Linked DNA regions of Homo sapiens. The protein of the gene in region 1 interacts with the protein of each later gene in a pairwise test. Each region holds a gene or a part of one and is shown on either strand. Other genes may lie near its edges. The genes, in order: SLC7A8, SLC33A2, SIGLEC5 and SLC25A46.

Region 1 (9,771 bases):
TCTCTTGAACCTGGGAGGCAGAGGTTGCAGTGAGCCAAGATCGCGTCACTGCACTCCAGCCTGGCAACAAAGCTAGACTCCGTCTCAAAAAAAAAAAGAAGGACAGGCAGGTTGACACAGGTGAATATCTTTATGGAGACAATGGAAGAAAATATTTGAAGTCTGTGCTGACTTAGAAAAATCAGGAAAAAATTTGCTATTTCCACAGCATATAGCAAAGTCTTTGACAGAATGGTCACAGAAAGATTTGTCGTGTGACCACATTAATAAATGAATGCATAAGCAGCTACAATTTCAGTGACTTTCAAAATGTTCCCAAATTCCCTGAAGTCAGAGCATGTGAAACTCCTAGGATTAAAGTGACTGGCAGGGTTAAGACGGGAAATGGCCAGGTTAAAAGTAAATGTTTGTTGCCCAGGAGGAGACCCACATTTGCCCATTTGACCAGGTTGAAAAGATCAGCAGGTGTCACAGAAAGAGAAGGTGCTCCTGAAGGACAAGTGCCTTCATGGAGTAGAAGGGATGAGGGACAGGACATGCTCAAATGGGGCAACAGGGAGGAGCCTGGGGCAGTCCAGGGAAGGGAAAGGAAAGGTGTGTGTGCTGGGAAAGAGGGGCCCAAAGGGCACATGTGAGGCTTGGACAAGACTGGCAGCCTCTGCCTTTTGGGACAACCTAAAGTTGGAAGATTGAGGAACTGTTTGAGATTAGGTCCAGCTCTCTTTCTTTCTCAAAATGCTAAGCAGGTGAGGTGACTTGCCCAAGGACACACAGCTGTTGAGTGGCCCGCCTCCCAGCTCAGCGTCCCTGTTGAATGGCGAGCTTCCAGCCTGTCTGGAAGAATGACAGCCACAAAGCAGGAGTGTTGGCGTCAGGCCAGGACTGGGAGTGGCGGCATCTTGCCTGCCTGTGTCCTCACAGTGTTCCAGATGGTGAAGGGTGATGTCTTAACACCACTGCCCCTCCACCACCCCCTTACTCCCGCCCTTGCCCTACATCTGCCAGCAGTGCTGGCTCTGGAATGGTACTGTCCCAGGACACGCAGCCAGGAGGGCGGCCCATAAAGACAGGGACACAAAGCAAGGACTGGGGCTAATCCCATCAACTTCCTCTAGCAGTTAGCCCAAAATGCCAGGAAGTACTTATACATACCTTAACGACTTTTTCCTTTTTCCCCTGTCCTAGTCCAGTGGTCCTCCTACTCTTCCTCCTAGAGCTAACTCTTCTTCTCAGATGGCTCTGTCCAGCTGAGTGAACCTAGCCTTACCTCCCAGGCCCTCCCATCAAGCTCCTCAGACCCTGACTCTCTCCACAGACTCGGCTCAGGCTGTGCTGATGAGAGAAGCCTTTGCTGATCAGGCTTTGGGAGGACATCTGCCTTTGCCTCCCTCAACTTGGCTGGATGCCATCTCTCCCTTGCCCATGTCCCACCCTGGGCAATGTTGACTTCTTCCCAGTTAGTCTGCAGGCTTTCAGTACGGTGCACAGAGCAGGAACTTAATAACACTTCATGACTCCAAGAAGGAGTGAGACAGTGTTGTTAAATAAAAAATTACAGAAGGCCATGGTTTTGGACTAAGCTCCTGCCCTAGGCCCCACAGACCAGGCTAAAAATCAAAATAGAATCACCCATGCTAAAGTTCCACATCACCAAATCTAAACTAAGTTGTTATCTGACCTTCCTAGAAATCAGGAGAGAGACATAACAGCCAATTAAAACAGGCCAGTTTCAATATTCAATGGACATGATAATGAAGTTCCCTCTGCTTTAATCTTTACACAAAACAAGGCAGCCTGAAGGATCCTGATATGAACTAATCAGTTATTTTTCTATTGTTCCGTCTCCCTGTCCCCACCTTACAAGAAAAGTAAATTTGTTTTTGTTTTTGAGACAGGGGCTTGCTCTTCCGCCCAGGCTGGAGGGCAGTAGCGCAAGCATAGCTCACTGCAGCCTCGACCTCCCAGGCTCAACCCATCCTCCTTTCGGCCTCGGCCTCCCAAGGAGCTGGGACCACAGGCACATACCACCATGCCCAGCTAATTTTATCTTTTGTAGAGACGAGGTCTTGCTATGTTGCCCAGGCTGGTCTCAAACTCCTGGGCTCAAGAGATCCTCCCTCCTCGGCCTCCCGAAGTGCTGGGATTACGGGAGTGAGCCGCTGTGCCCGGCCAAGAAAAGCAACTTCGAAAAGTGACTAACCAGCTTTCTTCAGCCCTCCCTGTCTGTAAAGCCAACCTCTTCTGCTCAACTCATTGGAATATGTATTCTATTTTATGGAATGAAGTGTTGCCTGATTCCAGAATTACAGTAAACAATTGAGATCTGTAAATTCGTTGTACTTTTGTCTTTTGATGTTTTTGGTTCAGAATGAGAGTCAGTGGTTTGAATGCACTGGCATTGAGTCCCTAGGATAGCTAGAAGTTACAGAGAGCGAGAGCTTTTAGGAATGTCATTCTGGAAGGAACCTGGCAAGATCTCCTAAGAGGAAATGCCTGGTGACTCTGTCTCAAAAGGTTACTTAATTACCAACACCACCAACTTCATTTCCATTTTAAATTTTATTACATCAAAAGAAAAAAACCTCTCCACAAAACAAATCTCTAAAACCTACACCAAACGAAAGAAATTATCATTAAGGTTCTAACTCCATCCCCCAAAACAACCTTACATTAAAAAAAATCCAAAAGAAATAGAAATACCAGCTTCAAAAATATTTATCCAAAAAGTAAGGCATCAACTTTACAAAAAAATAATTGAAGGAGGGGAGGAAGTTGGAGGAATGAGAAAAGAGGGAATAAGAAGATGGTCCCCTGACCCTCCAGGGGCCAACCCCAGCCTGCCGGGCATCTACTCTGAAGGGGTCACAACTCAGACCAAACTTGGCATCTCACCAACTATGGGGTGGGCAAGCTGGGCGGGGAAGCTGGGAGACACCATCCAGGCCAGGAAGGGCTCCTGTGTATTCCAGTTTAAGCAGACAGAATTCGGGGTGGGGGAGAGAATCCCGATTTGTGATAAAAGGATCCTAAGTCCTTAGTGCAGCAGGAGTGGCTGGGAAGGTTGCAGGGCCCACAGCAAACTCCATAGCCTTCCTTTGAAGCCCAGGGAAAGGTCAGAGGCTGCCAGCCACAGAGGAGGGCCTTTTTTGAGGATCTCCAGAGTGGGCGCCCTGCTGCCACTACCCTTTCACCCTGCCCCAAGACAGCATGACACTGAGACCTGCGAGGAGTGGGGGATTATTGGAGTTGGGGATGGATGGGAAAGGAACTGGGCTTCAGCCAATGCTCTCCTCAGTCTCCCAGGGTATGGAATGGGCACCTCTAGGGAGGGGGAAAGCACCCTTCCTCCCAGGGAAGGCATTTAATATCAGATCCGTCCTGAGGGTTAGAAATAGGGGAGTATTTTTAGGCCAAGTTCTTGGATGGGAGGTGACTTAAGGCTGATCTGGCTCTGATCTCAGGCCTGAAGGGCTTGGGGATCCTTCGTACCTGGTCCCAAGCCAAGGCCCAGAGAGGAGAAGTGCACGGTGGGGGCGGTGGTGCTGGCTGTGTGCGGGTGTGCTGGGAGTGGCTGCAGGGATAGCAGGGGACTGCTCCTTCCTGCGGCGGGCAGGTGGAGTTGCTGAGCAGCTTCGTCATTAGGAGAGAGATGCCCACTACCTTAAAAATCAGAAGCTTTTTGGCTTCTGGAAGCTTTGGCACCATGTTGGGGGCTGGATGCAGGAGGCAGGGGCAGGGCTGGGTTTCTGCAATCTGAACCTTTCTCAATATGTTCCTCAACCGCCTGGCTTGGGGGTGGAGAGGCTGTTCTTCTCCTTGGTCCTTAGCTCTGGGAGTTGGCGTCCTGAGGAGAACCGAATTCTGGACAGGGAGCCCTGGCTGGGGTGGGTGCAGGTATGATGGGGAGGGGCAGGAAAGAGGGCAGAGGGAAGCATCCCCTTGGATTTTGGGTCCCTGGTGAACAGATAGGGTCTTGGGTCTCTCCAGCTGACCCCTTGATGGGGACAGAATTGCTTGAGCCTGTCCCCCCACAATGCAGCTCCTGTGGCCTCTCCTCTCTGAAGGGGCCTCCCTGGGAGGGAAGGCAGTAATGAGCTCCGGTTCCTGAAGAGGCAGCTGAGGGTGTGGCCCGGAGGGAGGTCCTGCAGGGCACCTTGGCATCTCCCCTCTCCTCCAGCAGCTGGGAGTGTGGGCAGCACTGGAGTGGGGCCTGGGACATGGACCCTGGGGTGAGAGGCTGGTTCTTTGGGTATGAATGTCAGTTTTTGTTTACAATTTCTCACCACCCACACCAAAGTCCTACCACTGCCTGACAAAAGCAGAGAGAGGGGTGTGTGTGTACTCGCATGTGTTGGCAGGACCAAGGCAGGGAGGTAGGATAAAAGGGGGAGGAAGGAGAGAGTAGCCAGGGAATGGTGGTCCTCAGGGCTGGGGCTGCCCCGCCACGTCCTTGTCCTTCGTGGGAGTGGGTTGGTACATGGGCTGCTGCTGCTCCTCCATGTCCTCATTAGCCTCCTCTGTCCCTGAGCCCCGCTCCACCTCGGGGTACACGACCACACACATCTTCTGGCTCACCAGGGTTAGCAGCTCTGTAGGAAGAGATCACACAGAAACCAGGCCAATGCTGAGTATCCCACCAACCTGGCCAAGTGGCCCCGGCCCTTCCTGGCTCTCCTGCTCCAGGTTCTGCCTCTTCAGAGCAGTCAGTGCGTTGAAGAGAATCCTCGCCACCTGGTCTGCCTCCTGCATCTCCCGCCGGCTACTCTTTGCTTATGAAGGCCCCAGCCTTCCCACCTTCCCTGTGCCCACTGACCCCTAAGTCCAGGGTCTCCTCTGGTCTCCACCCAGCCTCGGGCAGCTCTCACAGAATGGCTGACAGGTTGCCTATTTTATTTTAAAATTTTTAATAACAGAGATGGAGTCTTGCTATGTCGACCAGGCTGGTCTCAACCTCCTGGGCTCAAGTGATCCTCTGTCTCAGCCTCCCAAAGTGCTGGGATTACAGGCGTGAGCCACTGTGCCCAGCCCAGGTTGCCTATTCTTGCGGGTCTAAGGTCTGTGTGGAAATGCCAGCTGTTCTCTACCCTCAGAGGTCTCTGGGAAAAGGCATCTGCTTCCCCTGCTCTGGACTCTTCCAGGGCTCTGTGGACTGAGGAGAAGGTGAGCCTAGATCTCCTGGCCCTGGTGGCTCCCCAACCCCATCACTGACCACTGCATTCCAGCCCAGGAGGCCCTGAAGCCAGCCAGAGCCTCCAACAACTCACCAATGAAGTCACTGAAACACTTGGGCTTGTGTTGCCAGTAAACACCCAGGAAATAGACAGGCACTCCTGTCAGCATGATGGCCAGGCCAATGCCACACACCACCGGCTCTGACCACAGGCTGAAGACCAGCAGGAAGGCCCAGAACAGCAAGTAGATGATGGGGAACAGCAGGTTGATCTGTGGAGCAGAGGCATGAGGCGTATGAACTGTGTAGGCCACGTGGCCCCCAGGACTAGGGACTGGGGCATTCTCTCTCTTCTTCACCCACAGAGACACATCCTCAAGGGCAAAGGCTGGGCTTCCCTCGGCTCTGTGGTCCCACACTCACCCCTGGTAGGGCAGGGGCTATATAAACAAATGTTGATGAACATGGTCGGTCAGACAGGAAGAGGATGGGGAGGAGTTAGGGAGGAAACGATCCTCCTTGCCCATGTCCTCGCTCTTGGGTGTGGTTAGACAAGGCCTCATCATGCATGCCATGTGCCCGTGGCAGCCAGAGAAGCCCACAGGGATGGAGAAGCTTGCTGGCACATGGGTGTGTCTGCTGAGGTCCTAGGGTGGAGGGGAGGTGTGGCAATGCACAAGGTGCAGGCAGGAGACGATTCGAGTCACTCAGGCTCCCTGGTCCTTGCCCACTTCTGTGCAGGGCCCTTATGTGGGCACAATATGGCAAATGTCAGCTCCTTATGGGCCACATGTGGGGAGTTCCTGAGAGTATCCTCTTCAGGGCTCCAGGGGCAGTCCTGATTCGGCTGCCTTTCTCTTCCTTGTCTTCCTCGCTCAGAAGGGATGTGTGTGGTGGGGACATGGGGTTATTCTACCTCCTCTTCCCTCTAGCAGATTTTCTAAGTGTGAGAGTAGAAAATGGCGGTGGAAATGCCAGTGAGGAACTGAGAGATTTGGAGAGCCTTTGATTTTTCAGCTGGAAGGATCTTCTAGAAGCATCTAGTCACTGTTTCTAGAATAGGATTGTTCAAATAGCTCTGGAGTACACTCTATTCTTCTAATTCGTAGGAGAACTCATAATGCTCTAGCATGTCCTGTTCTGAGCAATCCCTTTAATTCCTATCACAGAGTTATATCTTGTAGCAATATTAGGTTCACTGAGCACCCTATATGTGTAGGACTGTGGGAGTTTATAAAGGGAGGATCATGGGAGGTTGCAGTAGACTGGAAGACTTCAAGAAAGAGGAGGTACTTGAGGCGCATTTGGAAAATGGTTAAAATGTAGATGGGCAGATGGGAGGAGGAAGTCATTCTGGGATGGAGACATAGCACATAGTGAACCCAGCTATCTGGAGGGACAAGGAGGAAGTGTTGGGGAGATAAGAGAACCTTGAAAAGTCAGCTGGAGTTTAAGGCTTAGACTGGTAGGAAACAAAGGAATGTCATGATGAAAGTCACATTTGATCTGACTTATTCCCCAGCTGCAGTCTGCTCCGATCTCATCCCCAGTGGAGAATGGAAATAGTGGTCCCATTCACAAATGGCCCTTGCTTTCCAAAGGGTCTGCTACCATCAGAGATGATGACGTGTGGTCAGCAGCTAAGAACAGAGGTGATTTAAAAATCTGAACTGCAGCTAGAACCATAGAGGAAGGGGAGGGGACCCCAAAGGGAGTTTCTCTCACCTTGATGGGGCGGGGGATATCAGGCTTCTTCCAGCGAAGGACTATCTGTCCAGCAACCGTGACCCCATAGAAGAGGTAGTTGATGAAGCCCACATAGTTGATGAGTGTGTACATGTCGCTGGTGACCAGCATCAGCAGGGTGGAGATGCACTGGGAAAGTGGGAGGAGCTCATCAGTGATCCGAAAGATATTCAGAGACTGGTATTACAGATTAGGGGCTGTCCCCCAGCCTCCAGGCAGATGATGCCATCGTATAATGGATGTCTCGAAATGGAGACTTTAGAACCTCCCCTAGTAACCCAATATGTTACAACATCTTTATTGCTAGGAAATCCTTTCTTATTACAGGGGTGATGATCAAAATATTTAACCACTCGTATGGCACGGGCACTAGCCAATTAGAATGGATACTGGACATAAGCAGCTAGACTGGCCACACTGGTATTACCTGGCTCTGTGTCAGCCCCGGTCTCATTTGTATGCCTCTGTTGGTTATAGCTCAAGCTAAATTCATTTTTTTAAAATCCCTTAGGGAAGATTGTTAACAACAGATTAAGGCTGTATTCCTGCCCTCATCCTTTTCTCCTGGCTGAGTCATCTATTTTTCTTCCTTCCTTTTCTTTATTAATTTCAAAACTGGTTACATAGCACTTACTGTGTGCCAGGTCTCTATGTTTAGCATTTGACAAAGATTAACTCACTTAACCCTCATAACATCCCTATGAGGTTTTCTTGACAGAGTCTACTTTCCAACTTCAAAATCATCTCTGTGGCTCTCTTGGAACCATGCTCCTCCCCTCTGATAACTTGTGAAGGTCAACAAAAGGTTCTGTTCTCTTGTGAGATCCGATGGTTAAAATAATCGAGAAGATTTTAATGGTTCTTGCTACATCTGCCTTTTAGTCACACTACTGCACCAATAGCTCTAACTGGAAAAAACAAAACAAAACAAAACAAAAAAATGTGTGTGGCCCACTGGGAGTACTGTCTTCTCCAGCCACCTTCGACAACCAACCAGTCAAGGTGACCTTCATCCTGCATCTGAACATTCTGAAATTGTACAGCAATGCTGTAAAATGCTCTTGGCTCCCAAGAGCTCTGTTATTCTGATTGCTAACTGCTTCACCAGTGGACCAAAGTCATTTTTAGTGTTTTATTCAGGATCCAGAAGGAAAATAAAAATAACTCAAAAGACTCAATGGGGACAAGTCTTTGTTCCTTCCTATAGCTCTCTCAAAATGATTCTACTCTGGGGATATTTTACTCCCATCTCTTTCCTGTCCCAAGTTTCCTTTGCACAGTTTCCAGTTTATCAGTCTTCCTCTATTATTTTTCGTATTTGGTGTACTGTTAACACTAACTTCATTTCAATGATGTTTCCCAAGAGACTGGCAGGCTGCCCTGAAGCTTGATGGGGGAAGTGGGTGTTTGCAGGGACCAACCAGCCAGGAGCAGAGGCCAGTGCTGCAACCCTGTGGTAACAGGTGCGAGGAGAGCCAAGGGAGATATATTTTTTTTGAGGCTGTAGAATCCTGAGACAGTCAGTTCAGTCTGACCCAAAAGGATGGGAGAACGGAAATAAGTCAGCCTGAGAGCCTTAGGTATTTCAAGACTCAGGATCTTTCCTTGCTATATCTCTTGATATTAACAAAGATGATGGGTATCATTTGCCAGATCCTCTAAGATCCAGTGAGACCTAGCAGCAGACTGCAAGGGTAACAGGGGTGTGTGTGAAAAGCATGAACTCCCAGCTTAGACTAGGCACAAAGAGAGGGAGGTGTGTGGAGAGTTACAGCAGGAAGGGCCCTTACTGTGAAGAGCAGGGCTGGGATTGGGGTGCAGCGCTTCACGTGGATCATGGCCAACACACTGGGAAGGTGGCCCTCTCGGGCTCCAGCGAAGAACAGCCTGTCAGGGAGAAAAGCAGGTCAGCCTGGGATAACCCAGGGACCACCAAGCCCCAGCTCCTTCATCCTTGCCTACCTTCTGCCCACACAGGGGCATCCCCACTCCAACCAGGCACCCGCCTTCACATGCATACTTTCCACCCCACCAGTCACAGAACCTGTGTTCACAAATGCAGGTGCAAGCAAACCAGAGGCAGCCAGTGGAAAAGTGGATGAACCCTGGGTATGTTAGACCCTGAATGTGGTATGGGTGGCTCAGGGTTACTGATAATTGTACTGTCACTCAGTGGGGTGTTCCCAATGCCTGGAAGGCTGCAGGAGCAGCCTCTGTCTGTTGCCTAAAATCTTCATCTCTTTAAAAGCATTCCTCACATCCTCAAAGGATGCAGATTCCCTAATACACTGGGACTGAACTGCATATGGAAAGCTTTAAAAACACTCTATTTTTTTTTTTTTTTTTTTTTTTGAGATGGAGTCTGACTCTGTCGCCCAGGCTGGAGTGCAGTGCTGCAATCTCGGCTCACTGCAACCTCCGCCTCCCAGGTTTAAGCAATTCTCTGCCTCAGCCTCCCGAGAAGGTGGGATTACAGGTGTGTGCCACCATGCCCAGCTAATTTTTGTATTTTCAGTAGAGACGGGGTTTCACCATCTTGGCCAGGCTGGTCTTGAACTGCTGACCTCGTGATCCACTTGCCTCGGCCTCCCAAAGTGCTGGGACTACAGGCGTGAGCCACCGCGCCTGGCCTAAAAACACTCTTGTCCTAGTCAGAGAGTAGTTAGTTGTCTTTGTGGGAGTAGGGAATTGGTGGTGGAAATGTTCTCTATCTTGTTTTGGGTAGTGGTTGAATTTTGACAACTGTCAAAATTCATCAAATGGAAGCCAGGCACAGTGGCACACACCTATATTTCTAGCTACTTGGGAGGCTGAAGCAGGAAGATTGCTTGAGCCCAGAAGTTCAAAGCCAGCCT
Region 2 (10,442 bases), on another chromosome or scaffold:
GCAGGGCTGTGGCCCGCATCTTCCACGGCATCGGTGAGGCCTGGGAGGCCCCACCCGCTGCAGGCTGGGGCTGGGGGCTGGGGCAGGTGAGGCCTGGGAGGCTCCACCCGCTGCAGGCTGGGGCTGGGGCTCACGGCTGTGTCTTGGCTCCACCGTAGGAAGCCCCTGCTACCCGGCCCAGGTGTACGGGCAGGACCGACGCTTCTGGAGAAAATACCTGCACCTGAGCTTCCATGCCCTGGTGGGCCTGGCCACGGAAGAGCTCCTGCAGGTGGCCCGCTGACTGCACTGCATTGGGGGATGTCGGGTAGAGCTGGGGTTGTCAGAGGCTAGGGCAGTGACTGAGGACCTGGGCAAAACCTGCCACAGGGTGTGGGAACGAGGAGGCTCCAAAATGCAGAATAAAAAATGCTCACTTTGTTTTTATGGGCCCTCTTGGCCAATGAGGCAACCCCCACAAGCTGGGGACAAGCACATCACATATTCCAGGCACAGAGACATCTGGGCCACAGGCACATGTGGCTTTATTGACCACTCCAGCCACTCAGCTCAGAGAAAGGTGCTGGGTGCTAGGTCCAGGTACAGAACGGGAAAGGCAGAGAGGATGAGCAGGAGCAAGAAGCAGGGATGTGGCCCCAACCCATCAGCCAGGCCTCCGGCCAGAGTGCCCAGCAGCAGCTTCCCCAGCAGCTCCAGCGTGGCCAGAAGGCTGTAGTGTGTGGCCTGAGGGGGGTGGGGGTCACGGTCAAGGTCAGGCCCACACAGCCCCAGCCCCGTGGTCTCTCTTGTGTCCCTGCTACATCTACTCACCTGCAGGGCCCTGGGGGCCAGCTGGCTGCAGCGCATCATCCCAGTGAAGGTGACTGTGGTGACCAGGCCTCCCAAGAAGTGCTGCAGACATAGGCTCAGCAAGGCTGACCCTGGGAGGGCAGAAGTCAGCAGTGCCCCAGGCTCCTGGCCCCTCTCTTCCTCCTCAAGGCCAGCCCCTCACCTCTCAAGATTGTGCCAGCGTCCATGCTGGCCCCCAGGGTGTCCAGGTGGAAGACCAAGGCAGTCTGACAGGCTAGGCCCCCGAGGCGGAAGCGCAGCACCGACCTCAACAGAGGCAGCAGTTTCCTGGGATGGGGGTGGGAAATGGGTCAGTATAGTGGATTGGGGGCAGCTCAGGTACAAGTGGGTGGGCAGGGTACACTGGGGAGGGCTCACCAGTGCTTGGCCAGCAAGGTCCCACCCAGGGAGGAGCCAGCGATGGAGCAGACCACAGCACCCACACCATTCCACAGTCCCAACTCGGGAGCAGAAACGCCGTGGTCCAGCAGGAGAAGAGGAAACAGGCTGCTGGCACCCTGCTCACCTTGGGTGGTGGGGGGGGCATGAGCACGGGAGGTTCCATATCTGCCCCCACCTCCCTTCTCCCCACCTGGGCCCTCAGTCCTGCCCTGCTCTCCTCAGTGTTCCAGAGCTGCAGATACTGGGGGAGAAGTGGGGCAGCCCGAGAGAGCGCTCAGGGATGGGGCTAGAGCTGGGGGCGGACAAGACACAAGGCCCAGCTGCAGAGCCCCGGATGTCAGGGCCAAGTCTTGCAGGTCATACCCCAGAAAGAGCGTGGCCCTGTAATGGGTTGCAAGCCCCTGGGGACACACCTGGAGCTGTCCCGGAAGCCCCAACTGCTGTTGCCTGGCTCGAGGCCTCACTCACCCAGCTTGTAGGTGAGCACAAAGCCTGCCGTCCACACGGTCCCCGGCACGGCTAGCACGTCCCGCAGAAGGTGCGCGGTGTGGGGACGCTGCTCGGAAGGGGGCTGCTGTGGGAGCCGCCGCAGGGCTGGTGCAGCCCAGGCCAGGGCCGCGGCCAGCCAGTAGGTGGCAGCCAGGAGCAGAAAGAGTTGCGGCCACGAGAAGGTGGGCAGCAGCGCCAGCAGCGCGCCCCCAGCTAGCGCGGCCCCCAGCTTGTACGCGACCACCTGCACGGTATTGCCCGGCCCCAGTTCGGCCGGCTCCAGCAGCTGCACAGCCAGCGCGTCCAGGGCCACATCCTGCATGGCGGCACCCAGGTTCAACAACAGCAGCAACCCCGCCACAGCGGCGGGCAGCCCGGCCTGGCCAGCTCCAGGAGGGGGCAGCCCGGCAAGCAGCCCACACACCAGGCCCAGGCCCGCCGTGCTGCGCGTCACCCAGGCCCTCGCCGAGCCCTGCGCGTCCACCAGCGGGGCCCAAGCCAGCTTGAGCAGCCACGGAGCGTACAGAACCTTGGCCAGCCCCACGCGCGTCAGCGAGAGGCCGCCGGCACGCAGCAGCACTGGCAGGAGGCCGGACTGGAGCCCGTAGGGCAGGCCCTGCACCAGGTAGAGGCCGGCCAGCGGCAGCAACTTCCCGCGCATGGCGGCTCAGGCCGGCTGCGAGGCTGGGAGGTCGGGTTCCAGGTGGGGTCCCGCAAGGCGAGGTCCCCTCCGCGTGGGGTCAGAGGCCACACCCCGGCATGGCTTTGGTTCTGGGACCGGGCAGAGTCAGCGTCGTACAGGCTAGGGTCTGGACACGTGCTCTCGGGCTTTAGGAGCATCAACACCCCAGAAGAACCGAAGTCGGGTCCAAACGGGGGCGAGCGGTCCGGACACCGGCGGCCGGCGGCTCCCGGCATGCTCTGCGCGGCCGCAGGGAAGGGGGCGGGGCCACTGCCTCCCGGGGCTCCCACCATGCTCTGCGATACCGCAGGTGAGGGGAGCGGGGCCACTGCCTCCCGCGGCTCCCAGCATGCTCTGCGAGGCCGCAGGTAAAGAGGGCGGGGCCGCTGCCTCCCGGGGCCCTCGGCCCGCGCCCAGCACTGCCGGCCGGGCCGGACTCTCAGCAGTTTCTCGGCCCCCTGGAGCCACAGAGCGGAGCACGGACCACACGGCGTCGCTGGAGCCCCGCGGCCACCGGCTCCAGGGCCGGAAGGTCGCGCGGGCCACAGAGACCGCAACGGGCCAGAGCGTCAGCTCGCGGGCGCCCCCGGTGGCCAGTCCGGGCTCGGGCCCGCGGCCCCCCGCCCCGCCACGTGCGCGCTCCCACCGAGGTCCTGCGCGGGTGAGAGGCCCAGAGGGGGAAGCTACAGAGCTGGGCCGGCCTCGAATGTAAGGATCGGCCTGCGCCCACGGCCAGCCCTGGCCCCTCTCAGTAGTTTCGGATCCGCTCCAGGCGTGCTTCCTTCCTGGTGTCAGCCGAAGCGTGGTTGCTGCAGTGCCCAGCCCCCGCTTCTCCAGCCGCCCGCATGAAGGCGTCCGTTTCTTAAGGGTTCCGCCGTCTACCACTGGATACTTCCGGTGCGGACCCCAACCTTGCTGTGTCTGTGGCTTCAGCTCCTCCGTAAGGCGGTGACAGAGCCATGGAAGTTAGGAGGGAAGTGTGAAAGGTCAGGACCCAGCTTAGCTCAGAAGGACACCGCCAGCCACTGCCCGTGACGCCCTTCGGTGTCCGGTGACAAGGCTAGGAGCACCCTGCCTGATTCGAGCCCGCCCTGCCAAGGGAGGGGCCCACCTGCTGTGTCTCCTGCCCAGAGCTGTGCCCTCTGGGGCTCCCGAGGGCCAGATGAGGCTGTGAAGTGTGTGTGGCCTGTGGTTAAGAACCATCTCCAGAGCGAAAAAAACCAGGTGCCCTTGGCCAGTCCTATCTCCCAAGTTTGTGAGTCTCTAAAGCCAGCCCTGTCCTTGGCGGACTTGAGGGCACTGGACCCAACGCATTTTTCTGGCTGCCGAGGCCTCTGAGGGGGTTTCTTGTCAGCTCAGCAGGTTTTTGGGTTGCAGGTTTCCACGTCTATCAAATGGGGACTATCATGCCTACTTCAGAAGAGCATCTGTGCAGATTGAGTGACCCCCCAGCAGTGTCTGCATGTAGTAGGTGCTCAGCCATGCTCCCCAGGCCAGGACACAGCGCTGCCCACTCCCGCTCAGCCCAGCCCCTGCCTCCTCCAGCCCCAGCCCTCCCCTGGGACGCTCCCTTATCCTCTCCCTCTGCCTCCCACTCCACCCAGCCGAAGGACTGCACCACACAATGACACCAAAGGTGGTCTCTGGCCCCCCAGACAGTGGCCCCACCCCTGCTTCCTTGGGTAAGAGAACCAAGACTTCCTTCCTGAGCTGTCAGTCACCCTGACCAGCCAGCACCATGCTGGTTTAGTATTTCCCCCTGCCCCAGGGAAGACATGGACCTCACAGGAAAGGGAGCCAGGAAGGAGGCAGTTCACTGTGCCTTCCTCAGGAAAGGCTGTGTTTCTTCGGGTGGCCACCTGGGCCCCTGGCTCCCTAGATTCTTGGGGGCTTCCACAAAGGGGTGTGGGGCCTGCGCTTTCCTCACACTCTGGACCCTCTCAACCCATTTCTGTGTGATCTGACGGGCTCTGCCCCACAACCAGAGGCCAGAGGGAAGACCCAGCCTATGGTGGGCACGGGGTCTTCAGGAGGAAGAGGTGGGTGGTGGCCGTGGAAGGTCCCTTCTCTGAAGGGACTCAGGCCTGCAAGAAGGGTAGGCAGGTGGGAGCGGGCCACGCAGCTGCCAACGCTTCCTCCCTGGAGTCAGACTGCCACACAGCTTTATTAGGGACCTGCAGAGAGGCAGGGGCCCAGCACCCCCCCCACCCCACCCCGCCAGGCATCAAGAGCAAGTACAGTGGGCTCCAGAGCCTCCCAGGGCTCCTGAGCACACAGTCCAGGGCGACCCAGCCTGGCCCCAGCTGGGGTGCTCAGGAGTACTCGAGGGTGAACTTGGCATGGAACCTGCTCAGCTTCTCCAGCAGCAGCCGCAGTTTCTCCAAGGGGGGCAGAATGGTCATCCTGAAAGGAGTTGACAGTGAGTGAAGGGCCAGGGTGGCGGGACAGGGAGTGAGGGCCAGGCCTCACCGGAAGTGGTAGGTGCCTTCCCGCTGCCCAAAGCCGCTCCCTGGCACCACGCAGATGCCGGTCTCCTCCAGGAGGCGCAGGCAGAAGAACATATCGGGGGCCAGGCCCAGCTCCTGTGGACGGAGAGCCGTCAGAGAGGGATGCCCGGCCCCCCCTGCCCACCCCGCAGGCCCCGCCCCCGCCTGACCTGAGCGCGCTCCACCGCCCGCGGGGGCAGCTGCACGCGCGGGAAGGAGTACATGGCGCCCTGCACTGGGTTGCAGCTGATGCCAGGAGCCTCATTGAAGACCTGCTCGGTGAGCTTGGCCTTGGCCGCCAGCTCTGCCAGCACTGCCTGCTTCTCCTGTGGCCGCGGAGGGAGGGCCCATCAGGGCACGGCACTCGGCATCCCCCACCCCTGATTAGGTCACCTGGACCCCCTCCTGCCCCCAACTCACAGCCTGGAACTGCGCAAAGGAGGGGTCGGTGGGCGCGGGCGGGCTGACCACCAGGTCCAGCAGGGCCTGTCCTGGCACCGGCGGGCACAGCCGCACACTCATCAGCTTCAGCATCTGCTGCTGCACTGCAGCGTCCATGTTCACCACCTCCACATAGCCGCCGCGGAACCCGCACCTGCGCACGGCCAGGTCAGGTGCGGAGGAGGGGGTGGCCCATCGGGCGAGGAGGGCCTGGCCATGGCCCGCGAGCCCCCACCCGCCTCGTACGCACGCACTCGCCCATGTAGCCCTTGGAGGTGGAGTGGAAGGAGGCAAGCTCCTGCTGCCCGGCGTAGGGCGGCCCCATCTCCATGAGCACCTTCTTGAATGAGTGGAACTGCGAACCCGCGGCGTACACGTTGTCCTGGTACACCTGGAAGGGCGCAAGGCGTCACGGGGGCGGACTGTTGCCCGGCTTCCCGCTCCCCCGCGCCGCGCACCTCGTCCGCCAGCAGAAAGAGCCGCTCTTCGAAGGCGAAGCGGATCACGGCCTCGATGCACTCGCGGGTCTGCACCTGCCCTGGGGTGCCGGGGAGGCAGCAGTGCTGGGTGAGCCAAGGGGGCGCACTGCCCTCCGCTGGGCAGCCGGGGTCCAGCGGACCCGGCACTGCCTGGGCCAGGGCGCACGTGGGTGCGGGAGGAGTGGGGCGGGGCGGCGGGGAACGCACCGTGGGCGCGGAGGGAGTGGGGCGGGGCGGCGGGGAACGCACCGTGGGCGCGGGGGGAGTGGGGCGGGGCGGCGGGGAACGCACCGTGGGCGCGGGGGGAGTGGGGCGGGGCGGCGGGGAACGCACCGTGGGCGCGGGGGGAGTGGGGCGGGGCGGCGGGGAACGCAACGTGGGCGCGGGGGGAGTGGGGCGGGGCGGCGGGGAACGCACCGGTGGGGTTGCCAGGGTTGATGACACAGAGCGCACGAGGGCGGCAGTGGTCACGCGCCTGGCCCAGTGCACGGTGAAGCTCGGCCACGTCCAGCGCCCAGGCACGCTCCTCGTCCAGGTAGTAATCCACCTGCACTGCGCCCAGCTCTGCCAGCGTGGCCGAGTAGAGTGGGTACTGGGGGATGGGGATGAGCACACCCGTGCGTGTGTGGCCCTCGCCGGCCACCAGCAGCTTCAGCACCGTCTGCGGAAAGGAAGGGGAAGGCAGGGTTGGCGAGGCCTGGGGCCGCACCTGTCCCCCACCCTGGGCGCCCCCTCTGCAGTGTCAGGAATGTCTTGGTGCCCATGCCCAGCCTACCACGATGGCATCGCTGGCCCCTGTGGACAGGAAGACGTTGTTGGGGTCCGCAGGGATGCCTCCGTCACGCCTCTCAATGTACCGCGCCACGTCCTCCCGGATCAGCTGGATGCCGGAGCTGACGCTGTAGGCCCCTGGACTCGGGCAGGACAGGATGGGAAGTACAGGTGAAGTTCTCCTCAGCCCTCCCAAGGGACTTCCCTCCTCCAGTGGCAGGGCGGCCCTCTGCTTCCTCCTGGCCCTGGCTCTCACCCAGACTGTGGCCCCCACACGCCTGCAAGATGCGCTCCGCCCTTTTCTTGGCATCGTCAGGGAAGTTGGGGCTGCTCAGAAGATCAGGGTTAACACAGAGGGCCAAGACCTGGGAAGACGGAGTGCTGAGGCCAGGGCACATGGGCTGGGGGTGGGGGGGTGCTCCGGGCAGTGCAGGAGCCTCACCTGGCGCAGGAAGGTGATGGGCCTCTGCCCCATAGCCTGTGCGTCCCCGATGTTGGCACGGATGACCTCGGTGAAAGGCTTCTTCACACCCTGGGAGGGGAGGGGAGCAGGCAGGGAGACTGTGCCCTACCTAACCCCTCAGCCCTTGTCCCATGTGCCAGTGGGGCTGGGGCCAACTCGGCCACCCCATTGTGACCTGGAGGGCAGCGAGGGGCCCTGGGCCATACCTGGCGCAGCTCCTGCTCCAGCTCCAAGGCTCGCTGCACTATGGGGCCACGCACTGCGTACTCCACTCTCCGCACACGCGGGTTCATGCCGTCCAGCGTCAGCACCTTCGCCCTCAGTCCATGCCTCACCGCCTGGCTCCGGTCACCTGTGCTCGAGGCCATGACTCTACCCAGACCAGGCGGGAAGGCAGCTCAGGAGGTGGCAGGACCAGAAGTGGGAATGGCGACAGCTGGGTCTGGCTTAGTGGGCCAGGGCTGGGAGGGGGCAGCCGTAGCAGAGGGAACTCCAGGCAAGAGAGCACCCTCTTCACCGCAGCTGGCCTCACTGGGAGGGACAGAAAGGGCTGAAGGAGCTGGGGACAGTTGGGCCCCGCCCCACCCGTCTGGGAACAGCTCTGCCCCAGGGAGGCAGAGGCAGTGGGTGAGGTGGCAGGCGGGGCTTGGGGCAAGGCCCAGTGCCTGCCTAGTGTCCCCACGAAGGGAGAGCAGGAGACCCACATGGGGGGTAGGTACAGACGTCAGTCCGGACAGCTCTGAGGGACTAGACATGGGGGGAGGGGGAGAGGGCTGAGCACCTGGGGTGCTCAGGAGGTGAAGGGGTGCCCAGCAGCCCTGAGGGGCTGGCAGAGCTGGCAAGGAGGGACCCCCGAGGCGAGACTGGAGCCTGGGCTGCTGGGATTTACCCCAGCAGGGCTTGGCCGAGGCCTGGCCCTCGTGGCACCCGCATCTTTGCTTGGGCCAGCGGACCTGTCTCCTATTAACTGAGCCAGGCCTCAGGAATCCAGGGGGTGCTGGGGGGAGGGGAGGGGTGTTCAGGCTCTGGGTTCCATCTGGACCCTCCAGAGCTGGCAGCTATGGCCCAGAGGCTGCAAGAGCTCTGTAGCTGGACCTTGGTCCCTGATGAGCACTGCGAGGGGCTGGGGGAGGGGGCTGGAGCCAGGCAGTCCAGCCCTGAGCCCTGGGACAGCTCACACCGTGGCTGCTGTCATGCCCTTTCACCAGGCACCAGCTGGGGGTTGCCCTTGGGACACACCCGAGGCTAGGGGTGACCTGAGCTCTCCAGCCCTCTTGTTCCCGATTGGAGGAGAGAGTAGGAAACGAGCTGGGATAGGCCGTCAGAGCCCCACCTCCACAGGCCTGCTGAGCTGAAAGGCCAGGCTCCACGCTGGCCCACCCCAGCGTCGGGCACCGAAACCTGAACCATGGGGGTCAGGGAGCCGGCCCTCTGAGCAGGGCTGTGGGCAACCAGCCAGGCCCAAGTCGGACCTTGGCTCCTCTGATCCTGCTGGCTGGGAGAAAAGCCATCGGGAGCCCTGGACAGCCGGCCCCCAGGCCTCTCACCGTGCACGTCTCTGTTCCGCTGCCACAACAGCCTCCCCGTGCGCAGGCCTGCCCCTCTGGCCCCCAGGCCGGGGCACAGGTTAACATGGGCCTGGCCCCAGGCAGAGCCAGCCCCTGCCCGCCCCCTGGCAAGGGAGTCCAAGTGGCAGCCCTGGTGGCAGGTGGACCTTGGGCAGCTGCCCCACCCCCCACACTAAATTTAACCAGCAGCCAGCCCTGGCCCGCCCACAGCCCTGTGAGGACACCCTTCCAACCAGGGATGCTAGGGGAAGGGCAGGCCCAAAGGACACTGGGCTGACGGGCCCGTGCTGAGCCAGGAGGGAGAACAGCCCAAACCCACACCACCCAGCACTGGTGGCCACACAAAGCCGCCCACCATGAACAGACGAACCAGCGGTGCCCTCAGCCCTCCTGCTTGAGGCCCCTAAGGGGCCCCCTCACCCTGACACATTGTGCCAAGCCAGCTCAGAGCCAGAGTGGCCAACTGCGTGTCCCCTATGCCAGCCCAGGCGGAAGCTGGCAGCCAGGCCCCAGGATTAAGGCTGCGTGCCAGGAACTGGGGACCCACAACCCCCCCAGGGAGCTTCTGACACAGCCTTGTGCTTGTTTTGCCCCTCTGGCTCTGACACAAGAGTCTTGTGGAAAACACCACCTCCCTTTCCAAGCCATGGTCCCTGGGACCCCCACCTTCCGCCCCTCAGCACAGACACCCTAGGCCCTGGCCCCCATGGAGGCTCCTTCAAAGCACCTGGCTCCTCTCAGGAGAGCAAAGGGTTACGGAGGAGGCTCCAGGAGGCTGAGCATGGGAGGGAGTGGGTGAGGCCCAGGCTTCCAGCCCAGTGGCTGTGAGCCTCACTCCCACACAGCCAGGGCTGCCACATGCCCCAGCGCGCACCTACAGGCTTTCATGCTCACAGGCACGGGTGGCACCCCAGCCAAACAGCACAACCCACTCCCCACTGTGGGACAGCGACCCAGCTGAGACACACAACACACAACGAGGCTCCATGGCAAAACAGCCCTTTATCAAGAGTTGCAGGATAAAAATAGTCTTTGCAGCCAGACATCCCTCCAGGCATGTCTTCTGACCTGAGAGGGGCCAGTGTCCTGTACAGTAGAAGCCGGGGTTTCCGTGCTGCACCCGCAGCACCAGGGCACGCACCGTGGGGAGGCAGCCTTGGGCTGTGCCCGCGACAGGGCCCCTGCATGCTGAGCAACAGCCTCACATGAGCAGGCAGCACGGCCTCCTCTCCACGGGAGCCTCCACCGCCGGGGCTGTGAGCTTGAGCAGGGGTGGGTCCCCGCCTGCCCTGAAGCCACAGTCAGGCTGGGGGGTCACCGTGTCACCAGGCAGGCCAGGCTCAGCTGTCTCAGGGCTCTCGGGCCCCTCAGGTGGGGGTCGCTGCAGCTTGGCAGCAGCTCGCTGGCGCTTCAGGTCAGCCAGGGTGTGGTGGGCCTTGTCGTGGACCAGGGTGTGGGGGGTGGTGCTGTCCAGGGGGCTCAGCTGGTAGGAGACACTCCGGTCTAGTCGCTTGGAGTATAGATGCCGCACTGGGGAGCCCCCTACTCGGCCATTGTGCGGCCTGACCACTTCGGGGTTGTCCTCCTGCGGGCAGTGAAGGTCCCAGAGCCATCAGGAGGCTCCTCCCCCCTCCCTGGCCTTGGGTTCAGGCTGTATGGTCATGAAGGGACAGACAGGAGAGATGGGGCAAAAGCTGGCCCCTGCAGGGCACCATTCCTGACACAGGCAGGAGGGGGTCCAAGCGGAGAGAGAACCAGGGCAGAGCCAGGCCCACCCCTGCGCTGGGCGGAGCAGGGACGGGGCGCTCACCTCCGGGGGCGGCGGCCTGAGCT
Region 3 (5,847 bases), on another chromosome or scaffold:
ATATACTTACCATTCACATTGTGTGATCATCTGTTATGCTGAGAAATAGAACATGCGGGCACCCCAGGAATCTTAGAACCCCTCTTTGTTTCCCACCCTCCCTGACCTTCTTATGAGTACCACCTTGCTGATATTTGGGATTATCCTTTTCCCTGCCTTTGCCCATAAGCATAATACCTGTGTATATATTTTTAAGCAAGAATAATTGCTTTAAACATTCACACAAATGGAACAATGTGGTAATGTGTATTTTGTATGGCCAAATAGGACTGCACTAGCTTTCCTTTTATTAATGTCGGCATAATATACTTTCACTTTTGGCCTTCTCTATCCTTGTACTTTACGTGTATATGTTGTAAAGATCATATACTTGGAATCCATCCAAGTGGACTCTGTTTTAAACTGAAGCATTTATCCAATTATATTTAACATAAATATCCCATGTTATATTTTGTTTTCTGTATGTGTCACCAATTCTACATTACTTTATTTCTCCGTTTTGTTTGTTTGTTTTGTTTACTAAGTAATTTTGTTGTTGTTTGGCTTTTTGTTTGTTTTTTGAGACAAGGTCTCACTCTATCACTCGGCTTACTGCAGTCTCCACCTTCCGGGCTCAGGTGATCCTCCTGTCTCGGCCTCCCAAGTAGCTGGGACTACAGGCATATGCTACCATGCCTGGCTAAATTTTTTGTACTTTTTTGTAGAGGTGTGTTTTGCCATGTTGCCTAGGCTATTCTTGAACTCCTGGGCTCAAGTGATTCTCCACCCCTCGGCCTCTCGAAGTGCTAGGATTACAGGTGTGAGCCACTGCGCCTGGCTGGTTTACTAAGTTTTTAATAGTATACCTTTAGTGATCACTAGGTTGAAAGTTATATATTATGATTCTGTTCTTTTAGCCGTCATGAGAAAAATTTACAGCATGCCTTATTAACCTATCAAAGTCTTTAGTAAATGAAAACCTCTCTCTCCTCCTGGATAATATATGGATATTGGGACATGTAAAATACACTTACCTTGGTACTTAACTATTGTGATTGTCAGGAATTCTAAACTATCTTTTGTTTTTATTAAAGCTCCCCCATTTACTTGCTCTGAAAGATCATTATTGCTTTCTCATTTTTGAGTTGACTTTACTGAGTATAGATTGCAAATTGATGTTAGAAATAGTATTTGCCTTCTTCTACTCTCCAGGTTGCTACTGATAATTCAGTTGTCAATTAAATGACTTTTCTTTTGAAGGTGATCCTTTTTCTCTGGTAGCTGTTCAGATTTTTTTCCTTGTCTTCAGTTTTGATTCAGCCTTACCTTGACACAAACCCAATGTAGGGATGGTCTCTTTTGACATTTGCAACCTTTCGCTGGGCCACAGACTTAACCTTCATTTCCAGAGCCACATGCAAGACCAAAGAACCAAAGCTTCCTTTTTCAATATGAGCAAATGCCCCTGGGAATTTTGGCTTAGTGATTCTGCTTACTTCTCTGGGTTCAGCCTTTCCCCAGAATTTTGGCCTAAGTTTCCATTTTCTTTTCAGGCATTCTATACTATTTAAGGGAAGGATTCTTTTTCTACTCATTTTTTCCCCAAAAGATTTTATTATTTTCAACACAAGGCTTGATCAAAATTATCTAACCTGTCATAACCAAAACAGTAGTCACAATTCACCTTCTTTACAGTGATGAAAATGAAGTTTGGGTGGTAGATATTGAGAATCAATGTCCTCCCAGTACTCCACTGGAATTATCCACTCATTTCCTCATGACCACTTGCTGAAGTTTCTAACATTGTCATTTATCTGGGTTTGGAGATACCCTAGATAAGTAACTGGAGAATTTTTAGCTGCTTTTGGTTTAGCATTTTAAAAAATAAATTAGTTCAATTTTAGAGGAGGGAGAGTATAAGTTCTTTCTTCAGTCCACTCTTCCAACTCAAGACCACCCATTAACTCATGTTTGGAGGAAAAGATAGTGTAAGCCAGATGAAAGCAAGGAGGCATGGCTTCCAGGAGGAGGAATCTCAAATTGCAAAGACAGTGTGGTATGAACCAGCATGAAAGGCTTAAGGAAGGGTTAGGCAAGAGGAAAGTATAAATGAATAGATAGCAGGGAGATCATGAAGGACTTTATGTGTCAGGGGAGATGCTTGTGATATATTGTCTAAGGCCAGGGGGCCGTGAATGGGTTTGGGCAGGAAAGAGTTAGACTCAACTCTTTGGCTGTTGGAAGGATTCCTATGGGTCTCATAAATGAAGGACTGGAGCCAAAGGAATATGATGCAAGGATTGCAGGTAAAAGTGGGCAAAGATATGACTCTGGCAAGGATATAAGATCCCACATCATGAACCAAGTGCCAGGCTGAGGGGCTGGTCTTTCCTAGGGAGTCTTCGAAGAGTTTTGGGAAGGGGAGTGACACCAACATATTGCTGCCCTGTTTTTTGTGCCTGGTCATCCCCAGCCTTGAGAGAACTTGCCAGCAGGACCTTTCTATTCAAGGAAGAGAGACCAGAAAGCACTGAGCACAACGCCCTGTTCCAGGACCCATGTTGGTTGATTTCCATGTGTTGATTTCTTTAATGTTCACAACAACCTTTGAGGTAGCATGCATGATCTCTGATTTACAGAATGGGAAACTGAGGCACAGAGGGATGCAGTGAATTGCTTGATGACAGTGCCAGGGCCTAGATTTGAGCCCACCTCTCTAATTCCATCTGCTTGGAGCACTTAAACATCAGTTAATGTTAACATTGCCACAAGGGCTCTTCGTGCTTCAGCAAGTGGTCCCTGACTTGTCCTTTCCCCCAGACAGGCTGTGGCTCCTCCAGCCAGGACTGAACTCTGGGCAAATCCTCACTTGCTTGTCTTGATCTCCGAGTACTCCGTGGTGCTTGGGGCCTCCTGGTCCTTAGGCTCCCTCGACTTCATCTCAGAAAAACTAAGGGAGGCATAATGGAGCTCCTTTTGTTCTTCCAAGGGAGGGGCATCCCCAGGAGGAGATGCTTGATCTCCGGGGCTGTCTGGCCAGGGCTTCTTCCTGGAACCCTGAGTAAAGGGGAAGGAAAGGTGTCACAGTAGGAATAAAGAGGCAGGTGTAGAATAATGAGTTCTTATATTTATATGTTGCCTTGGGATTTATTTTGAATGTAAGTTGGACTTTCTCATGCCAGAAGCAGGGCTTAGTCACCTGGACACAATTTCCAATTCTCTACCTCCTCCCAGTTCCCCAAGGTGGTTAATCCAAATGTCTGCCTTATACAACCATCTCCTTGTGACCAGCTCCCTATGGGACATACAGCTACAACCTACTTGACTTACGTATTGACTCCTGTGTCCCTCATAGGCTGCGCAGATATACTGCAGCAACCACCTCTCAGTCACAGTGTGGCTCCACAGAACTCCTGCCTGCTAGCTCTAAACCCCCAGTTAGAACTCCCTGTGGGAAGCCTGCTTAGATTATGCCCTGGACTCTAATTAAGGCTTTGGCTCATGGGTTCTTCTCTCTCTCTCTCTCTCTCTTGCCCCCTACCCACTGGATGAGCACTTGCGTCCTGGTCAGTTCCCTCCTTTCCATTCGCCCTTCCAGGCTTGCTGTGCTATCTTCTCTCTGGGACCTGTGAGTAATAAACTGCTTCTGTTATTTCATGTGTTTTGTTGTGCTGTCTCCTCTGTGTCCCACCCGCCCAACAGACCTGAACCTCACTTCTTTTCTGGTCAAGGCTCTCCTAGAGAATAGCTGTCTTGGTGGGAATAAACCGGACACAGGTCATAGGAAAGCTGCAAGGGAATCTGCCAGGATAAACAAGTTTGCTGTGAGAGGGGGTCACAGGCTGGGCACTCAGGCAGCAGGTGGTGTGCCAGGATAAAGGAGTATTCTGTGAAAGTCACACTGTGAACATGATGGCCAGATCTCTGGGGTTCCCATTCAAGGCCGGGCTAGATTTTATGACCACTCCCCAAAGAGAGACCTCAACACCAAATAAGAGAAAAATACAACAAATGGTTCCCACAGGGAAGTTGGGCTGATGTGACATTTATCAATTCATCCTTTTATAATCCACTCCTCCTAAGGACAGGCCATAGGCTGCCTAGGTCAGGGTCTATGTCTGATTTCTCACACTGTACGTGCCCAGGAACCGGCACAGGGCAGACAGGGCTGGGTTCAAATCCCGGCCCCACCTGTCCATATACATTTCCTGTGAACTCAACTATTCGCTCATTCTTTCAAAATTTTGTAATACTATGATTGATCAGACCATATTGAGGACTTACTAATCACATTGAATCATCACCAAAAAAAAACCCACAACAGTATAAAAGATATTCTAATTATCCCCACCTTACACACAGGGAAACTGAGGTGGAGAGAGGTTAAGTAGCTTGCCCAGGGTTATTCATCTAATACATGGCGAGGCCAGGATTCGAACTCAGCCCTGTCTCCCCTGTTTCAGGTTCTGGGCACGTACAGTGTGAGAAATCAGACATAGACCCTGACCTAGGCAGGAGGAGCGGATTATTGATGAAGCAAATGTATACCTTCGGCATAGGTTACAAGGTGTCTTATGTGCAAACCAGAAAAGAGATGGCAATTCTGATCCTGGACCCAGTTTCCATGAAAGAGAAACAAAATGGAGCAGATCCTGTCCCCAGCAAAGATGGTAACCAGATACAAGTAAGCAATTTCTTTCCTCTCCCACCTTCACCCATATCCCTACCCATCACGCTATGGAAAATATGTTGAAAGCAACGTGAGTCTTCAAACAGTAGCTCAGAAGTTTTCTTTTTGAGACAGAGTTTCACTCTGTCATCCAGGCTGGAGGGCAGTGGTGTGATTTCGTCTCACTGCAACCTCCCGTCCCTGGCTCAAGCAATCCTCCCACCTCAGCTTCCTGAGTAGCTGAGACCACAGGCACAAGCCACCATGCCCAGCTAATTTTTGTAAAGACAGGGTTTCGCCACGTTACCCAGGTTGGTCTCAAACTCCTGGGCTAAGCGACTGGCCCAGCTTAGCCTTCCAGAGTGGTGGGATTACAGGTGTGAGCCACCACACCTGGCCATACAGTTTTTTTAAAAGGACTCCGCAGTTAGGGAAAAATGGCTTCATTGTGTCAGAAAAAAATAGACTTTCTGGAGAGAGCTGCTTATATTAGGCACAAGAAAGATGAAATAAAATGAAAAAGTGGCTATGCACACCAGCATTATGCAGGCAAAGGAAGAAATAAAGACATATGTCTATCAATAGGTGTGCGGTATATGAAATAAAAAGGGTGAAATTGACAACTGAAAGAAAAGGCACAGCTCAGATTAGTAAATAGGACAATGCAGTATGTTCACCCTTTCACTCAATAGCTCTTTGCTGAGTGCTTTCTTTGGGCTAGATGCCGTTCGTATAAATGAGGACATAAAGCAGACTGAAACCACCCAAATACCTCCCCGTCATGCAGTTCCTTGTTAGACAGAAGGAAAAGTAATACTGGGTAACAGTTATAAGTGAGCTCCCTGTGAGCTTGCCACTTTACTAAGCACTCCTTGTAACAATCCGAGACAGATACTAGCATATTAATAACCCAATTTCTATAGGAGAAAACAAAAAAACAGAGAGGTTCATTAGCTTATCCAAGGTCACACAGCTTGCAAGTGGGTGAATCTAGAACCTGAATGCAGGACGTCAAACTCCAGGGACCATGCTGTGCCTCGCTTTACCATTCTGCCTATGGCATGAAAGTGTGCAGAATGGTTAAAGGTAAAATAAAGGAGAAAACAAAGCTCTCTCTACCATAGTTCTTGTCAAAAGAGTGAATTCATACACCGGCTCTGTTCTCCAAGACCTACCAATGATGGAACTAAAGATGGAGC
Region 4 (5,556 bases), on another chromosome or scaffold:
AAGACACTCTCATGTAACCTTCAGTGAAGAAGGCTTTATCCTCATTTTATAGATGAGAAAACTGAGTATCAGAGCTCTCATTAGTGTGGCATGTAACTAGAATTCGAAGCCAGGTTTTCCAGGCTCCGAAGGCATGGTCTTCTTTTATAATAGGACTTAGATAATTGACTATGAAAGATCTGGGGAGAAACTGAAGATGATTTCAAATTTTGATTGTATATGACTGGAAAATTATAACACTGTGGGAAAGGAAGAACCAGTTTATGAGAAAAATAATAAATTTAGCTTTTAATACATTGAATTTGAGGCAGCAGTGGGGAACACAGTACCAATGCAAATGAAATAGGGATATGGGTCTGGAGCTTAGAGGTGAGATCAAGACTGAAGATAAATATTGGGGAGCCAATTGAAGTAGTACATAGTGGGAAGACATGTTCTAGATACAAAATAATAAAGACTTATAACAGAGTTTGGAAAATGCTAAGGACAATTAAAAACTGAAGCCAGTGAGGAAGACAAAAGATGGAATGAAAACAGAAAACAAGTGAGATAAGGAAAGTATAAATAGTTTTTTGTTTGTTTTTTGAAATAGAGTTTATTAAGTATCACAGAGTTCAGAGTTTCAGGTGTTTCTATGTATAGATATGTATAGATAGAAAGGAGAGACTCAGTGGTAAATAAAAGAGAAAAGGCAGGGTGATGTAATGGGGAAAAAGACTAGTCTGGGAGTGGGAAGAACTGGGTTGCAGTAGCAGCTCTGTTATTCTGTGACCTTAGTAAAATCACCAAACATATTTAGGATTCAGTTTACACATTTATGAAATGAGAGGTTTAATGGGAGATGACTTCTAAAGGTCACTTGACACTTGAAAGTGTTGAAATCCTTAGCTAAAAGGGAACAAGTTTGAAAATACGTAGACAAGAATGAGTGCACAATTTTATGGTTCATTCATGTATTCCACATTTATTATGTCCATGTAATTTATTTTTCTATGTCTATGTATTGTATAGTGGAAGTGGGAGAGAAAACATGATCTCTAGTGTAAAATTTAGAGAGCTTGAGTGATGCTCACAAACTACAAGGTCCCTATATTACAAAGAATTGAGACAGGTTGTTACCAACTTGGAGAAGGGAAAGGAATGCAGAGGACTGTGGAAAGACCTACCAAAAGCTCTCAGAAGCCTTCCATTGTTGGCTCCAGTAGAAATTAAGCTAAGAAGCAATTCATCAGTTAGTGAGAACATGGTGCCCCTAGCCCTTCTGTTGGATGTCCTTGTCTCGTTAACCACTTTGACTTAAAATCTATTGTCTTTGATAATACAGCCACCCTTCTTTTCGTAATTTACACGGAAAATGCTTTTCTTTTTCTTTCAAACTCTGTGTCTTTATATCTAAAATAAGTCTCTTGTAGACATAGTACAGATATGTCATTTAAAAAAATCAATTTTGCCACTCGCCTTTTATTTACATTTAAAGTAACTGCAGATGATAGACTTCTGCCATTTAGCTATTTGTTTTCTATCTTTATGCTTTTTACTTCTCAATTCCTATATCACTGTCTTTTTTGGTATTAACTGATTTGTTTGGTAGTAGAGCTTTTGTTTTGTTTTGTTTTGTTTTTTTGAGATAGTTTTGCTCTTGTTGTCCAGGCTGGAGTGCAATGGAGTGCAATCTTGGCTGACTGCAACCTCTGCCTCCTGGGTTCAAGTGATTCTCATGCCTCAGCCTTCCTAATAGTATACCATTTTGTTTTCCTTCTTCCCTTTTCTGTATGTTTTTAAAGTCATTTTCTTGGTGTTTATCTCAAGGGCTACAACATCTTAAACATGTAACAACAAGTTGAATATCAACTTAATTTCAGTAGTATACAAACACTCTGCTCCTATACATCTCCATCTCTCTCACTTTATATTGTTCTTGTCATAGATATATTTTTATATATTGTGTGACCATTAAAATAGATTCACTTTTATGCACTTGCCTTTTTAATTATACAGGAAAGAGTGGAGTTACAAACTAAAAGTACAGTAATACTGGCTTTTATACTTACCTATAAAATTACATTTACCTGTGTTATTTCTTTATATGACTTCAAGTTACTATCTATTGTCTTTTCTTTGCAGCCTGATGTACTCCCTTTATTTCTCGTAAGAAAGTTCTACTAATAACAAACTTCATTAGGTTTTGTTTATCCGGGAATGTCTTAATTTCGCCTTCATTCTTGAAGGGTAGTTTTGCTAGATATAACATTATTTAACCTTTTAAAGAAATTACTTATTTCCAGCATTATAAATACATCGTTTTACTCCCTTCCAGCAAGTTATGTCTGTTCTATTCCTTCTAGAACCAAGGGTCAGGTCCCACACTGGGCACCCAAGCTGCCATTTTTAAGACTGCCATGCCACTGAACCACAGAGAAGACAGGAGCCAAGGTAAGTCAAAGCCACAAAGCTTTCCTAACAATAAGTTGCCTTTTTCTTGATTTAACATTCACATAGTTGCTGTAAACTTTTGACTGTTTTCCAGAGTCTGACAAAGTTGGTTCTGACAGTTTCTGGTTGTTTTCTTCTCTTTCCATGGAGGGATGGGAGTCTGGAGCTGCCTATTTGTCATTTTTCTGTTGTTACTCTCCTAGTTGTGAAATGCAGGACAAATCACCTCCTCTCTGTATCTATTTTATTCTTAATCAAACAGCACAACTCCAAAAATGTCATAGGGATGTGGTGAGGAGGCTATAGAGATTTTAAAAAATAGTGTGCAAAAAAGTTTAACTTCACATATTTTGTTGATCTTCCTTTCTACCTAAAAAAATATACTTCATCTTTAACCACCAGCCTGAATAGTTCTCTCACATCAGTAGGAGAAAAACAGTGGCTTTATTTCGACATTTTATTGAACTTTTCATATTACACAATTTACCCAAAACATTTAAAGTAACAGTAAGACAAACTTAAAAAAAAAAAAGTCATACAGACAAAACATCTCTAGGTGAGGCAATATGTAAATTTCATTGTCAAATCATGATTTTGTTACTCTGCTATACAACTTGGTACCATATCAATGATACTAAATGACTCAAGAGTAAGACATTATGCATTCCGTTTATATGAGAAAAAGAGATTATTTACAACTACTTGAAAGAGAAACAGAAATGCCAACAACAGTATCATTCAAATTCTAGTGCAATGTCAATTGTTACCAAGAGATCTTATTTGCTTATATAAATTTTGCAAATAATTCAAACCTGGCTATCTTATTAGAAGCTGACAAAGTATGCTTTTCTGTTGCAAAAGATCAGTGGACAAAAATCCTCCACAACCTCAGCTGATAAAACAAATTTAAGCAGCATTTTTTTTTTCCATTTCCTGAACAGATGTACTAATACTTAGGTAGAAACACTAAAGCATTTGTACTCAATCAATAAAGTGAATGCTTTGTGCAGTTTTAACAAAGCTGCTGCTAAAAAGACAGTTGTGAGTGGTCAGGTATATCTGCAATAGTAAGCAAGTTCTTACCTTTCCAGTTCTGTATGCTTCTGAAAACACCAGCTAAGGTATTAAATACCCATTTTCAAGTGACCTTGTTTTTACTATTTCATATTTATGACATCTAGTGCTGAGATTCTGGGGGCTTTAATAGATAACCTTATTAACCCAGATAATTTTTTTTGGAGCCCATAAAATAAAATTGAGAATGGCATTTCGGGAAGGTCTACATATATGTATTTAGTAAGTTAATTCGTAAGTTCACTTTACATAGTAAATTAATATTTACCAGTTTTTAATTGCTTTCAGTGTACTTGACTCAAATTAAGAAACCCTACAATGTAAGGCAAGTGTATCACAAGCTCCATGGCCAAAATTTGGCTTATATAAGAGGACCAGTGGGCCTGTGGAACATTTAATAGAATCTTTTCCATAATGCTATTAGTTCTACTGAATTAAAAAATATTATTTTGAGCTGTTATTATCTTAAGAAGTATAGCCCATGGATATTTGATTTGGCACCCATGTTAAAGAAAAATAACAATTTTTAAAAGGGAACGAGCGTATCTTACAGTTATCTCACTCATTCTTTTCAAAATTCAGTGCAACATATTTGGCTAGCTTAAATTTAAGTGCGTGACCGTTCAAGATTTTGTTTCAACTAATTTGGAGTGGTTGTAAAAAATTATTCATATTTTACTTTCTACATTTCAATTTTAATGTTAATTTGTATTCTCTTTCTCCAAAAAGGAAAACAAGATCAACCTTATTTGTGTATGGTTCAGCCTATCAGTCTTATAATTATTCTACAATAAAATGAATTTATGTAACTAACTATTTTCATGCTAACTTCCAAAAAATATCCTGAAATATTTAATTTTTAGCTAAACAAAGGATCCTACAGATTTTCACTAGTAAATACTTGATTCTATTCAGATTCTTTTCTAGAAATTTTTCAAACTTGAAATTTTCTGGTTTACTCTTATCTGAAACTATCCTAATTGAAAACAATTTAAATGCTATTGGTTGGACAAAGTAAACCTTAATCTAAAATAGTCACCATAAAATATAAAATGTGATCAGTGGTGTTTAATTTTATTTTCCCCCTTTTGGTGGAATTTAAAAATGGAAAATGTAGGTGTTTCAGTAACTACACACACACACACACGAGAGATTTGCTACTTATTACTGTTTTTACACTTTTTGGATATCACTTTTTTGTTCCAACACTACTATTTGCAAAAAGTAACCATTTCTGTGACATTTAGCAAGTAAAATGAATTTCTATTCGTATGCATTCTTGGTTGGACAATATCAGTGCAAAGTCACTGTGCTTCAGAGCGCTAAATGGTTCATGATACAACTGTGATTATTCACGTGAAGACATGAAACTTTAAAATGTCTAATGATAGAGCAGACACATATCATTTTACTACACAAAGTGCTTAACCCACCAAATTACATTTAGGAATAGACAAAATGTTTTTATTAAACTGATTAGTAATTTTTTTGCTTATTATATGTTGAAATGTACAAATGTACTTTTTCCCCTCACCCATAAAATACAAGGGCACATTTCCTTTAAGGTTTGGATTTTTCTTCAGTATTCATCTAAAGAAGTTTAAATAAAAGGTGATAAGAATAATTGCTTTTCCCTCCACGTACATCTATTTTGGAAAACAAAATTTAAAGCAAAACCTGAAAGAAAATAAAAACGGAAGCCATTATTTAGTGGTGACTATATACTAGACAAGAGGCACAAATTCCCAGATGAATTTTAATTTTGTTTCCTCTCAGACAAGCCATTCAGAAATAAAAGGGAAATGAGGTTCATTTAAGTACACAATTTGTAAATGTGGAAACAGTAGTAATTGTCATGATTATTTTATATTCTCTCTTAACAGTGGCTCTAAAAACAGCCCAATGATTCACACAACTAGCAAAGCAAACCAAACTCTATAAATGTATGAGAAATTAAGTTGCTAGCACTGAAACACTGGGTTTGGATATGGACAAGGATGTTGTCTCTGACTTGTATCTTTTGGGTACCTTGGTTTTTGATATTTTGAT

What was found.
Region 2: the proteins of SLC7A8 (region 1) and SLC33A2 interact in binary tests that used the Homo sapiens proteins (3 or more experiments, as listed by UniProt).
Region 3: the proteins of SLC7A8 (region 1) and SIGLEC5 interact in binary tests that used the Homo sapiens proteins (3 or more experiments, as listed by UniProt).
Region 4: the proteins of SLC7A8 (region 1) and SLC25A46 interact in binary tests that used the Homo sapiens proteins (3 or more experiments, as listed by UniProt).

Annotation. Positions count from the first base shown.
Region 1 is NC_000014.9:23,122,755-23,132,525, forward strand, and holds the end of SLC7A8 (large neutral amino acids transporter small subunit 2), read right to left. Parts: intron 8,804-9,771; coding exon 8,707-8,803; intron 7,046-8,706; coding exon 6,896-7,045; intron 5,611-6,895; exon of another isoform or gene 5,443-5,610; coding exon 5,265-5,442; intron 4,590-5,264; coding exon 4,423-4,589; 3' UTR 2,541-4,422; downstream 1-2,540. UniProt on the Homo sapiens protein: Associates with SLC3A2 to form a functional heterodimeric complex that translocates small and large neutral amino acids with broad specificity and a stoichiometry of 1:1.
Region 2 is NC_000008.11:144,501,272-144,511,713, reverse strand, and holds SLC33A2 (major facilitator superfamily domain-containing protein 3), read right to left. Parts: upstream 2,645-10,442; 5' UTR 2,381-2,644; coding exon 1,699-2,380; intron 1,355-1,698; coding exon 1,207-1,354; intron 1,117-1,206; coding exon 992-1,116; intron 921-991; coding exon 811-920; coding exon of another isoform or gene 724-810; coding exon 550-723; 3' UTR 501-549; downstream 1-500. Other genes in the region: RECQL4 (ATP-dependent DNA helicase Q4), read left to right, coding at 1-33, 159-283; GPT (alanine aminotransferase 1), read right to left, coding at 4,714-4,804, 4,871-4,983, 5,058-5,213, 5,308-5,482, 5,583-5,719, 5,787-5,866, 6,225-6,468, 6,583-6,716 and 3 more; PPP1R16A (protein phosphatase 1 regulatory subunit 16A), read right to left, coding at 9,811-10,194, 10,420-10,442.
Region 3 is NC_000019.10:51,609,387-51,615,233, forward strand, and holds the end of SIGLEC5 (sialic acid-binding Ig-like lectin 5 isoform 1 precursor), read right to left. Parts: intron 4,664-5,847; exon of another isoform or gene 4,443-4,663; intron 3,608-4,442; exon of another isoform or gene 3,560-3,607; intron 3,037-3,559; coding exon 2,845-3,036; 3' UTR 1,574-2,844; downstream 1-1,573. UniProt on the Homo sapiens protein: Putative adhesion molecule that mediates sialic-acid dependent binding to cells. Binds equally to alpha-2,3-linked and alpha-2,6-linked sialic acid. The sialic acid recognition site may be masked by cis interactions with sialic acids on the same cell surface.
Region 4 is NC_000005.10:110,762,478-110,768,033, reverse strand, and holds the end of SLC25A46 (mitochondrial outer membrane protein SLC25A46), read right to left. Parts: 3' UTR 2,877-5,556; downstream 1-2,876. UniProt on the Homo sapiens protein: Transmembrane protein of the mitochondrial outer membrane that controls mitochondrial organization.